Regions from separate parts of the Homo sapiens genome. Here all the other regions are linked to region 1. The links come from fine-mapping of genetic effects on gene expression. A gene starts in region 1. Each other region holds a variant in brackets. All regions are shown on one strand. Distances are from middle to middle.

Region 1 (2,500 bases):
CAACAGGCGCCACAGCACCTCTGCTTTCCCAAGACTTTGTCCACGCTCTCCACGCTCCATCCCGAGCTTAGTGAGGGGCAGGACTGTGTCTACTGTGTCAGTGGGAAGCTGCTTTGGAGCATGTGCCCCTTGGTGAAAACCCTGTGGATAGGACGTGATCTCATCTTCTGGGATTCTCCAGCAATGACGGGGAGTTTGTGGAAACTTGACTTGGGAGAACCTGCTTGCAGGCATACGGCAGTGGCCAGCCCCCAACCTAGAGTCAACCCTCCTTCCAGATCTTCCCAGGAGGTCCCAGTCCTCAGAATTCCCTCCAAGCCCCGCCGGGAATAAAAACCAGGCAGTAACGGGTGTGCAGAAAACCTATACATCCAACCTAACTTGGCTGAAGAAGACACCCTCCCCCCCGCCGTCTGTGCTCCGGTGTCTCGGTGACTCAGGGTGCCCACCTTCACGGCTGACCTGCTCATTCCCGGGGGCCCCTGCGGCTGTGCCGTTCCCTCAGGTCACACTGGCTTGGGTCCTTAGAGCACCCTTGGGTCCAGGTGCCCTGGGCCACCTCCCATTAGTTAGGGACCGCATCCGTGGGGACAGAAACTTCCATCTCACTGAACCTATACACAGGAGCCAGGCTGGGCTTGGAGGTCACCAGCCGCCTGGGAGTGGACCCGGAGAGGCTGAGTGCGGCCCTCCCTCTCAGACGGCAGACCCCGAACCTCCACCCAGAATCCGAGCCCGGACACGGCCAGCAGGGAGCTAGGAGATGAAGTCCAGCCCTGGCTGCCCGGCTCCTCTGGGAGGGCAGCGAACCCGCGGGAGCGCATGAGCGGCCTCTCCCGGGGGGGCGGTAGGAGCGCGTCCCCTCCAGGGCGCTTTGGGATCGGGCTGCTCCGGGCCAGTGCTCGCGCTGGGGACCTGCGACGCCTCAGCCCCTGCCCAGACTGCGCCGCCCGCCGCGGCCACACCTCCCAGTCCCTGGGAAAGTCCCCGCCGCCGGCGCGAACCCACCTTCCGGGAGCCCAGGGGCCCTGCTGGGGACTCGCCGGTGTCCCCGCCGCCTCCTCCTGCGCGGGTCCGCGCTGCCCGGCCTCAGCTCAGGGCTCCCGCCTCGCCTCCCCGAGCTCCGGTGAATTCTCGGCGCTGCTCCTTTCGGAAAGGACTTTTTTTTTCCCCCTGCGTTGCGTCAGGGCGGTTGCCTGGCGACGGCCGAGCTCTCCGCCGCGAGCCTTTCACCGCGATCCCGGCCTCGCGTTCTCGCCCCGGGTCCGAGCGCGCCCCGGGTCCTAGCGCCCTGTCGGTTCACCGGCCCGGGCAGCCCCCGCGAGTGGAGAGGAACTACATGCCTTCGCCAAACCCCAGATGAAACCAAACCCAAACATCCATTTTCTCATTAAACCCGAAACCAAGGCAGTTTCCCCCAATTGTGGCAACGTGACTGCGCCACTGTCAGAAGTTTGTCCGCATGGAGGGCGCAGGGGGACCCCACGCCCAGGGCCTCACCCACCCCCAAACGGCAGGAGTTCATAGGACCCGCGGCCACGACTGCCCGCGAGCGCCTACCGTGGGCCACGCCCCCCAACGACCCAGCAGGGCAAGTGTAGGCATCTCTGGCTGCCAGATGAGGAAACTGAGGTGCAAAGACGCGAGCGTTTGCCCCACTAACCACAGGGTGTCTGTCCCGCCAGGGGCGCGGCATCGGCCACCTCTGGCTGTCGTTAGATTCTAAGACCCAGTCCCTGCTGCATCAGAGCCCAGAGCTGCAAACCCTAAGGCACAGGCAGGACAGCAGCCCGAGCTGCCCGGACCGCAGGTCTTCAGGACCAGTCCCAGCTTCTGACGAGGGGCCCAGGCCAGACACTGGAGGCCCCAAGGCTGGTTACTGGATGGGGGTCTCTTACCCCAGACCTCATCAAGCACCTTTCCTAGATGCCCGGGGCTGGAAGCGTCTTTCAAAGGGCTCCAGTCTGCCATTCTCACGATAGCCCTGGGCGTGCGCGCAGGCGCCGCCTACATGGCCAGACGCGAAGCTGAGTGGTGGGGCTGCAAAGTGACTGGCGCAGGCTCCAGGCAGGTGCGCGGCTGGTCGGGCCTTCTGTGGGGTCTTAGCCCCTGCAGGGGCCCGAGACACTCGTGCTGCCCTCTGGTGCCCGCGTCCTTCACTGCAACTCCGCATCCAGCCCTGACCTACTCCCTTCCTTTCTGACCTTCACTGGAAGGTCCTCTGAGGGACGTCGTCTAAGGAGACATCTTGCCAGTACAGACCTAGTCATGCTAATGAGGGAACGGTCCTAAGCTAGCGGGTGTATTAACAAGCATCTTTTGGAGAGTCACAGCCTTGATCCAGATCTTCTGATTCCAGCTCCTAAACATCACTCCTTCCTTCTTCCTGCCCGCTGCCACTGTCCCTACCCAAGCCACCAGCAGCTTGCCCTACCCAGTTCTGGGACCTGCCACCCGGGTCCAAGCGTGCACGCAGTCTCCATACTGATCTCCCTTTACC
Region 2 (2,742 bases), 42 kb before region 1:
ATGCCTAATTTCCCCCAAGGCCCTTGCGGGACAGCCTTCTGCAAAAATGACAGCTTTGTTGGGGGGCCTCCCTTTGGGAATCCCAGTTCATAGCACCAGTGATTCCAGGAAACAGGAACGTGACCGTGGAGGGATGGATTATGGTGGGAACCCAGGTCTCCTTTAACATCTTGGTTGGAGCGGCCCTTCTGCAGAGCTCTTTGGGTAGTAAGCAAGAGCCAGTCACAGAGACACTGGCATCCACACCCAGGGCCCCTGGGTGGGAGAGCACCACTGAATAGGTCCTGGGGCCCTTGAGTCGCCAGTCCCAGGGACCCCTGCCTCCGGGAGACCCACTGGAGTAACTTGGCCTCAGCTTCCTCTGACACCCCTCCAGCCCAAGCCCTCCGCTCCAGCCCCTCCGCCCAGTCTGAGGGCTCCTCAGCAGAGAGAGAACCTCCGAGAGTTGATGTTCATCTTGGTCACGCCAATAAGCTTGAGTGGTGTGGAGAGGCTGAAGGAGGAGGCAAGAGGGGAGTCACAGAAGAGGTCGGCCAGCTCATCCCGCTCCTCCAGCTCGTAGGTGGCATCGTTGAGCATCCTCCTGTGGAGGCGGCAGGTGTGTTCGATTTTCAGCTTGTTGATGTCGCCACGCAGGCGCATGAGCTGTCTGGCCAGTTGCTGGTCCTGCAGCCGCATCTCCGTCTGGAAGGGAGGGGGAGCAGGCAGGGTCAGCAGAGAGTGGCTCGAGTCCCTGACAGGCACAGACTGGTTAGCAGGGCCCTGACTAATGTCTTAGTTCATTAAGTGGTCCATCTAGAAATATTAGCACTTTCCCTGCTCAGGGAGGTGAAAAGACACAGAAAGCAAGGTGACAAATGAGGGTGCGGTCGCAAAACAATACTTTGTGCTAGGCTAGTTGCTGTATCTAAGTCCTTCTGAAAGACATGCATATTGGTCCTGGCTAGAAGATACTTCCAGTGCTTTCTCATTGTTTAGAGTTTCATTTAGATGGAGTAAGAGTATAAAGGAAAACATAGGGTAACAGCTATCAAATTCAGGAGGATGGTTGCCTCTAGGTGAGAAGGAGGGACTGTGATTGGGAAAGGTATATGGGGGCTTTGACTGTGATGGCCATGTTTTCTTTCTTACGCTGGGGAGTGTCATGTTGTTACATTACTCTTTAAACGTTTTAGAATGCCTGAAATATTTCTTAGTAAAGTTTCAAAACAGCCAAACAAAAATTGGTTCCTAGGTACTGGGTGTTTTATTATGAAACAGTTCTAAGGCCTTTGGGTCTATTAACATGCAACAGTTAACCGTCACTACAACCTGTGAAGTGATGTCACCATCATCACCCACAGCTTATAGAGGAGGACACAGAGGCACAGCCAGGGAATTAGCTGTGTCGGCTCACAAAGCTCATCCACAGCCGAGCTGGGATGAGGAAGC[C/T]GGACAGCTGGACTCCAGAACCAAAATGACTGACAATGAAGTTCTGCTGCTCAAGGACGAGCTGCAGTGTGGTGTATGGAGCTAGCAGAGTGCTTAGTGACCTTGTAGAAGGTTCCTAATATTTTTAGTGGCTTGATGTTTCCTATTGATGTGTAAACACAAGGTAAAATCCTAAGCCCCCCAACTGACTGAACAAGCCCGCTCTTCATCAAGAGGACCCCAGAGAAGCCTGAAAACTGAATTCCCAGCCGTGATGGGAATGGAGTTCAGACATGCTTTGTTATACCCCCCCTTGCTGTTGGAGTTTAGGCACAGCAGATCGGCATTAACATTGAAATAGAGATATAAGACTGACAAAACAGACTCTTTGTGGCAGTAAGGTAGCAAATTCCTGCCTCTGGTATAGCGTCACATAACAGGTAGCAAACCCTGAAGAAAATAAAAATATTTTACCCTGAAGTATATTTCTTTGACATATTTTGAAATGGCCCTGCAAAACCATCTCTTGTGGGAGATACTTACATCTGTAGAGCATTTCCATTAATGCAATCAAGCCTTCCCTTTCTAGGCCTTTCCAAGATCTAGGAGAGATTAAATGAGAGTCTGGCAAATTTAAGGTCTGAAAAGAGATATTTACCATCTATTTTCTCTAAAGGCTTCTACCTGGAGGCTTCATCTACATAACAAGAACCTTGGCCTCCACAACTGTCCTTTGTCTTAAGCATTTCTTTCTACTGACTTCAAGTCTTTAGGCAAAACTTAACTCTTTCAATCAACTGGCAATAAAAATATCTTTGAATCTACCTAAGACCTGTAAGCACCCCCACCCTCCAAGCCCCTTCAAGATATCCCACCTGTTTAGGCTGAACCAAGGTATACCTTCTGTGTATTGAGTTATGTCTTTGCTTGTAACTCCTGTCTCTCTGAAATGTGTAAAACCAAACAGTAACTGGACCACCTAGGGCGAGCTTTCTCAGGACCTCATGAGACTGTTCCCTGGCCCATGGTCACTTACACTGGCTCAGAATAAACCTCTTTAAGTATTTTACAGAGTTTGTTTTCTTCTGTTAACAAAGAGATGTGATAATTATTTCTCACCTGGCTTCACACTCCCAGTTTCCCAAACCCACTGTAAACCAAAAGTGTCTGAGACAGGTGTCAACAATTTAGAAAGTTTATTTTGCCGACGTTAAGGATGCACACCTGGGAGGCAGGTCTATGCCTTTCCTCAAAGATGATTTTGAGGGCCTTAATATTTAAAGGGGAAGGAGTGGATACTGGGGGAAGAGGAAGAAATTTTTTAAAGGTGTA
Region 3 (2,742 bases), 63 kb before region 1:
ATCCACCCGCCTCGGCCTCCCAAAGTGCTGGGATTACAGGCGTGAGCCACCGCGCCCGGCCTCACCCACTTTTTGATGGGGTCGTTTGTTTTCTTCTTGTAAATTTGTTTGAGTTCATTGTAGATTCTGGATATTAGCCCTTTGTCAGATGAGTAGGTTGTGAAAATTTTCTCCCATTCTGTGGGTTGCCTGTTCACTCTGATGGTGGTTTCTTTTGCTGTGCAGAAGCTCTTGAGTTTAATTAGATCCCATTTGTCAATTTTGGCTTTTGTTGCCATTGCTTTTGGTGTTTTAGACATGAAGTCCTTGCCCATGCCTATGTCCTGAATGGTATTGCCTAGGTTTTTTCTAGGATTTTTATGGTTTTAAGTCTAACATGTAAGTCTTTAATCCATCTTGAATTAATTTTTGTATAAGGTGTAAGGAAGGGATCCAGTTTCAGCTTTCTACATATGGCTAGCCAGTTTTCCCAGCACCATTTATTAAATAGGGAATCCCCATTGCTTGTTTTTGTCATGTTTGTCAAAGATCAGATGGTTGTAGATAAGCGGCATTATTTCTGAGGGCTCTGTTCTGTTCCATTGGTCTATATCTCTGTTTTGGTACCAGTACCATGCTGTTTTGGTGACTGTAGCCTTGTAGTATAGTTTGAAGTCAGGTAGTGTGATGCCTCCAGCTTTGTTCTTTTGGCTTAGGATTGACTTGGCAATCCAGGCTCTTTTTTGGTTCCATATGAACTTTAAAGTAGTTTTTTCCAATTCTGTGAAGAAAGTCATTGGTAACTTGATGGGGATGGCATTGAATCTATAAATTACCTTGGGCAGTATGGCCATTTTCACGATATTGATTCTTCCCACCCATGAGCATTGAATGTTCTTCCATTTGTTTGTATCCTCTTTTATTTCATTGAGCAGAGGTTTGTAGTTCTCCTTGAAGAGGTCATTCACATCCCTTGTAAGTTGGATTCCTAGGTATTTTATTCTCTTTGAAGCAATTGTGAATGGGAGTTCACTCATGATTTGGCTCTCTGTTTGTCTGTTATTGGTGTATAAGAATGCTTGTGATTTTTGCACACTGATTTTGGATCCTGAGACTTTGCTGAAGTTGCCTGTCAGCTTGAGATTTTGGGCTGAGACGATGGGGTTGTCTAGATATACAATCATGTCATCTGCAAACAGGGACAATTTGACTTCCTCTTTTCCTAATTGAATGCCCTTTATTTCCTTCTCCTGCCTGATTGCCCTGGCCAGAACTTCCAACACTATGTTGAATAGGAGTGGTGAGAGAGGGCATCCCTGTCTTGTGCCAGTTTTCAAAGGGAATGCTTCCAGTTTTTGTCCATTCAGTATGATATTGGCTGTGGGTTTGTCATAGATAGCTCTTATTATTTTGAGATACGTCCCAACAATACCTAATTTATTGAGAGTTTTTAGCATGAAGCGTTGTTGAATTTTGTCAAAGCCCTTTTCTGCACCTATTGAGATAATCATGTGGTTTTTGTCTTTGGTTTTGTTTATATGCTGGATTACATTTATTGATTTTCGTATGTTGAACCAGCCTTGCATCCCAGGGATGAAGCCCACTTGATCATGGTGGATAAGCTTTTTGATGTGCTGCTGGATT[C/T]GGTTTGCCAGTATTTCATTGAGGATTTTTGCATCAATGTTCATCAAGGATATGGGTCTAAAATTCTCTTTTTTTGTTGTGTCTCTGCCAGGCTTTGGTATCAGGATGATGCTGGCCTCATAAAATGAGTTAGGGAGGATTCCCTCTTTTTCTACTGATTGGAATAGTTTCAGAAGGAATGGTACCAGCTCCTCCTTGTACTTCTGGTAGAATTCGGCTGTGAATTCATCTGGTCCTGGACTCTTTTTGGTTGGTAAGCTATTAATTATTGCTTCAATTTCAGAGCTTGTTATTGGCCTATTCAGAGATTCAACTTCTTCCTGGTTTAGTCTTGGGAGAGTGTATGTGTCAAGGAGTTTATCCATTTCTTCTAGATTTTCTAGTTTATTTGCGTAGAGCTGTTTATAGTATTGTCTGATGGTAGTTTGTACTTCTGTGAGATCGGTGGTGATATCCCCTTTGTCATTTTGTATTGCGTCTATTTGATTCTTCTCTCTTTTCTTCTTTATTAGTCTTGCTAGTGGTCTATCAATTTTGTTGATCTTTTCAAAAAACCAGCTCCTGGATTCATTAATTTTTTGAAGGGTTTTTTGTGTCTCCATTTCCTTCAGTTCTGCTCTGATATTAGTTATTTCTTGCCTTCTGCTAGCTTTTGAATGTGTTTGCTCTTGCTTCTCTAGTTCTTTTAATTGTGATGTTAGGGTGTCAATTTTAGATCTTTCCTGCTTTCTCTTGTGGGCATTTAGTGCTATAAATTTCCCTCTACACACTGCTTTGAATGTGTCCCAGACATTCTGGTATGTTGTGTCTTTGTTCTCGTTGGTTTCAAAGAACATCTTTATTTCTGCCTTCATTTCGTTATGTCTCCAGTAGTCATTCAGGAGCAGGTTGTTCAGTTTCCATGTAGTTGAGCGCTTTTGAGTGCGTTTCTTAATCCTGAGTTCTAGCTTGATTGCACTGTGGTCTGATAGACAGTTTGTTATAATTTCTGTTCTTTTACACTTCCTGAGGAGAGCTTTACTTCCAACTATGTGGTCAATTTTGGAATAGGTGTGGTGTGGTGCTGAAAAAAATGTATATTCTGTTGATTTGGGGTAGAGAGTTCTGTAGATGTCTATT
Region 4 (2,742 bases), 50 kb before region 1:
CAAGTGAAGCTTTATTCCCGGTGGTGGCAGCAGGCAGAGGTGTGGACAGACCTCTTGAGAATCACCAGCTTTCCATAGCCGTTCCAGCTACAGCGGTGCAAAAAAGGCCCCCTGCTGAGCTGGGTGAAATCCGGGCGACTTTGGGGATGAGCTCTGTGAGTCACCTCTTCTCACAGCCTCTTCCCGGACACTGCCTGTCCCCGCCCTTCTAAGGGTTCTGTGAACCCTTAGTTCCTGAATCAGGTCCTTTCCTTCATGGAAGACTGAGGGGGCTTCCACTTTATTGACCAAACCCAGACTGGTGCAGAGGCGACAGGTTGGAGACGCATTTGTCCTGCTCCAGGCCCAGGTACCCCTCCCAGATGAGGCCGAGAGTGCAGTGGGTGGGGGAGCAGAGGTGAGCTCCCTGAAAGCCCTCCCTCCAGGCCTAGGCCAGGACCACCTGGGTGGGTGAGTCTCCGGGAGCGAGCCAAGGAGTGTGGCTTGTCATCTCTAACTCAGGTTTCCCTTGGGACTCTGGCTGTTCTTTAGCAAATGCCCCTTAGCTTCAGTAGTCTTTGCATGGAGAAGGGAGTAAGAGAATGAGCAGTGCAGGGCTTTCTGTTTAACAAATGGCTCAGGAAATACCCTACTGTCCTGCAAAGCTGCACCAAGCCTCACTTTCCTCGTAACCATCTTGCAGGCGGGAATGTTCCTGGCAGCGAGTGGTGGATGACGGATTCTTACAGCCTGCAAACACCTTCATTTTTTTATGATTAAAAAATAAAAAATAGACAAGGGTGGGGCATGGTGGCTCATTCCTGTAATCCCAGCACTTTGGGAGGCCGAGGCAGGCAGATCACTTGAGGTCAAGAGTTTCAGACCAAGCTGGCCAACATGGTGAAACTCCATCCCTACAAAAATACAAAAATTAGCCAGCTGTGGCAGTGCACACCTGTA[G/C]TCCCAGCTACTCAGGAGGCTGACGCAGGAGGATTGCTTGAACCCATGAGGCAGAGGTTGCAGTGAGCTGAGATCCTACCACTGCACTCCAGCCTGGGCAACAGAGCCAGACTCTGTCTCAAAAAAACAAACAAAAAGAGATGAGGTCTCTCTGTGTTACCCAGGCTGGTCTTGAACTGCTGGGCTCAAGCAATCCTTCCATGTCAGCCTCCCAAAGTTCTGGGATTACAGGCATGAGCCACCATGCCTAGCTAAAACACCTTTTTTCCCTTTTAATTTTTAAAAAATTGATGTATAATAATTGTACATATTTATGGGGTATATAGTGATGTTTCTGTGCATTCCGTGTCTAGTGATCAAATCAGGGTAATTAATATCCATCACGTCAAGCATGTATCCTCAAAGAAATGATAAATGTTCCAACGCATCTGAGGTTTCTCTTCCTTAATCAATTTCCTTTGGAGACCGCCTAGCTGTCTCCCTTGCTGTTTGCTTTGAGCCTGTGAACGGGGTACTTAAAAACAGCCCTGTCTGAAACCTTCAATCTGCTGAGCAGCTCCCATCAGATAGGGTCTGGTTACCACAGGCCTGTCTGCTCTGGTCACTGCCAACTTCCTCCTCTTCTGCCTGCCTCCTTCCCCAAGTCGTCTAGGCCACAGACTTCAGGCTTAGACATGGAGAAGGAGCCAGTGGGAAGTGCTTCTGGTCTTGTTGAGAAGTCAAAAGGGTGTGTGTAAACGGAGTTTACACCCTTTCCAAACATAAGAGAGACGAGATCTCTGGGAGGCCAAGGAAGCCACAGTTTGACGTCACCAGCCATGGGTCAGGGCACCTGGCCACGCTCAGCAGGGCACCAGCAGCTAATGTGGCAGCAGGCCGAGTCTCTGAATGAAGAAGCCACACCACATCTGAACTGTCGCTCCCCCTCTCCCCATACTCTGGTCTCCACCTGTTCAGTCTTGATCTCTCCTGGACTCACCCTAGCAACCCCCAGGTCACGTGGAGACCACTGGCCATGCACCTACCTCCAGCTCCGTTGGCTCTCCCGGCCCGTTTCCTCTCGTCGTCCTTCCCTCCTGACTCAGTCTAACACTAACATTGCTCCTTTGCAAAAAACATTCACTTTTGCTGTTTCCGTTCTCTGTCACCTGCTTGGCAAATCCTATCTCCCACTGTCTGCCTGGTCTTTGTCTGTATTGGAACTTCTAAATATTGCTGAAAAAATCAATCACTCCACCAGGCTTGCTGGACACACCCCACATTTATGACCACAGCCTCAAATGGGCAATCCCGCCACCAGACCAGACGGTCCATCTTCGCTTTCCTAATTAACTCACCCGTTCTCAGGTAATTATTTGAAAAATGTCTTTGCAAACCTCCAATATCCCACCTCCTCCGACTCACTTCCCTATTTCACAGACAAATAGGAGCGACCTCACGGGCTCCCTTCCTCTGTGCCACTGATTTGTTATTGAAAAGGGGTCCTGATCCAGACCCCAAGGGAGGGTTCTTGGATCTCGCACAAGAGAGAATTTGGGGTGAATCCACAGAGTAAAGTGAAAGCACATTTATGAAGAAAGAAAGAAAAGAATGGCTGCTCCACAGGCGGGGGCTGCTTGAATGGGCATATTTCTAGTTATTTCTTGATCATATGCTAAACAAGGGATAGATTATTCATGGATTTTCTGGGAAAGGGGTGGGGAAATCCTGGAATGGAACAGAGGGTTCCTGCCCTTTTTAGACCATGTAGGGTAACTTCTGGCCTTTGCCTGTGGCATTTGTAAACTGTCACGGGGCTGGTAG

Direction of the effects. Alleles are on the strand shown, and positions count from the first base shown. SD is a standard deviation of normalised expression in the study named. Not every link is listed here.
In carriers of allele C in region 3, the expression in thyroid of the gene that starts at base 1,136 in region 1 tends to be higher than with T alone (small effect, 0.36 SD a copy in GTEx).

What was found. PIP is the estimated chance that this variant, and not a neighbour inherited with it, causes the effect.
Region 2: its variant is the best candidate, but not a certain one, in a credible set for the expression of FAM167A in unexposed skin (GTEx, PIP 0.50).
Region 3: its variant is the best candidate, but not a certain one, in a credible set for the expression of FAM167A in thyroid (GTEx, PIP 0.71).
Region 4: its variant is the best candidate, but not a certain one, in a credible set for the expression of FAM167A in whole blood (INTERVAL, PIP 0.54).

The regions. Positions count from the first base shown.
Region 1 is chr8:11,465,618-11,468,117 of GRCh38, forward strand. FAM167A (family with sequence similarity 167 member A) reads right to left here and starts at 1,136. Exons shown (of 3, transcript NM_053279.3): 1 at 1,009-1,136. RefSeq lists a silencer at 844-1,053 and an enhancer at 2,299-2,500.
Region 2 is chr8:11,423,953-11,426,694 of GRCh38, forward strand. FAM167A (family with sequence similarity 167 member A) reads right to left here. Exons shown (of 3, transcript NM_053279.3): 3 at 1-684. The coding sequence ends at 421. All of the region lies in intron 3 of FAM167A-AS1 (FAM167A antisense RNA 1), which reads left to right. Among named protein-coding and RNA genes, the nearest start is that of FAM167A, 41 kb to the right of the region's middle. RefSeq lists enhancers at 573-1,116, 1,117-1,659 and a silencer at 1,549-1,740. The variant C/T (reference allele first, on the strand shown) is at 1,432.
Region 3 is chr8:11,402,827-11,405,568 of GRCh38, forward strand. All of the region lies in intron 3 of FAM167A-AS1 (FAM167A antisense RNA 1), which reads left to right. Among named protein-coding and RNA genes, the nearest start is that of FAM167A-AS1, 36 kb to the left of the region's middle. The variant C/T (reference allele first, on the strand shown) is at 1,624.
Region 4 is chr8:11,415,193-11,417,934 of GRCh38, forward strand. All of the region lies in intron 3 of FAM167A-AS1 (FAM167A antisense RNA 1), which reads left to right. Among named protein-coding and RNA genes, the nearest start is that of FAM167A-AS1, 48 kb to the left of the region's middle. RefSeq lists enhancers at 1,298-1,799, 1,647-1,876, 1,800-2,299. The variant G/C (reference allele first, on the strand shown) is at 940.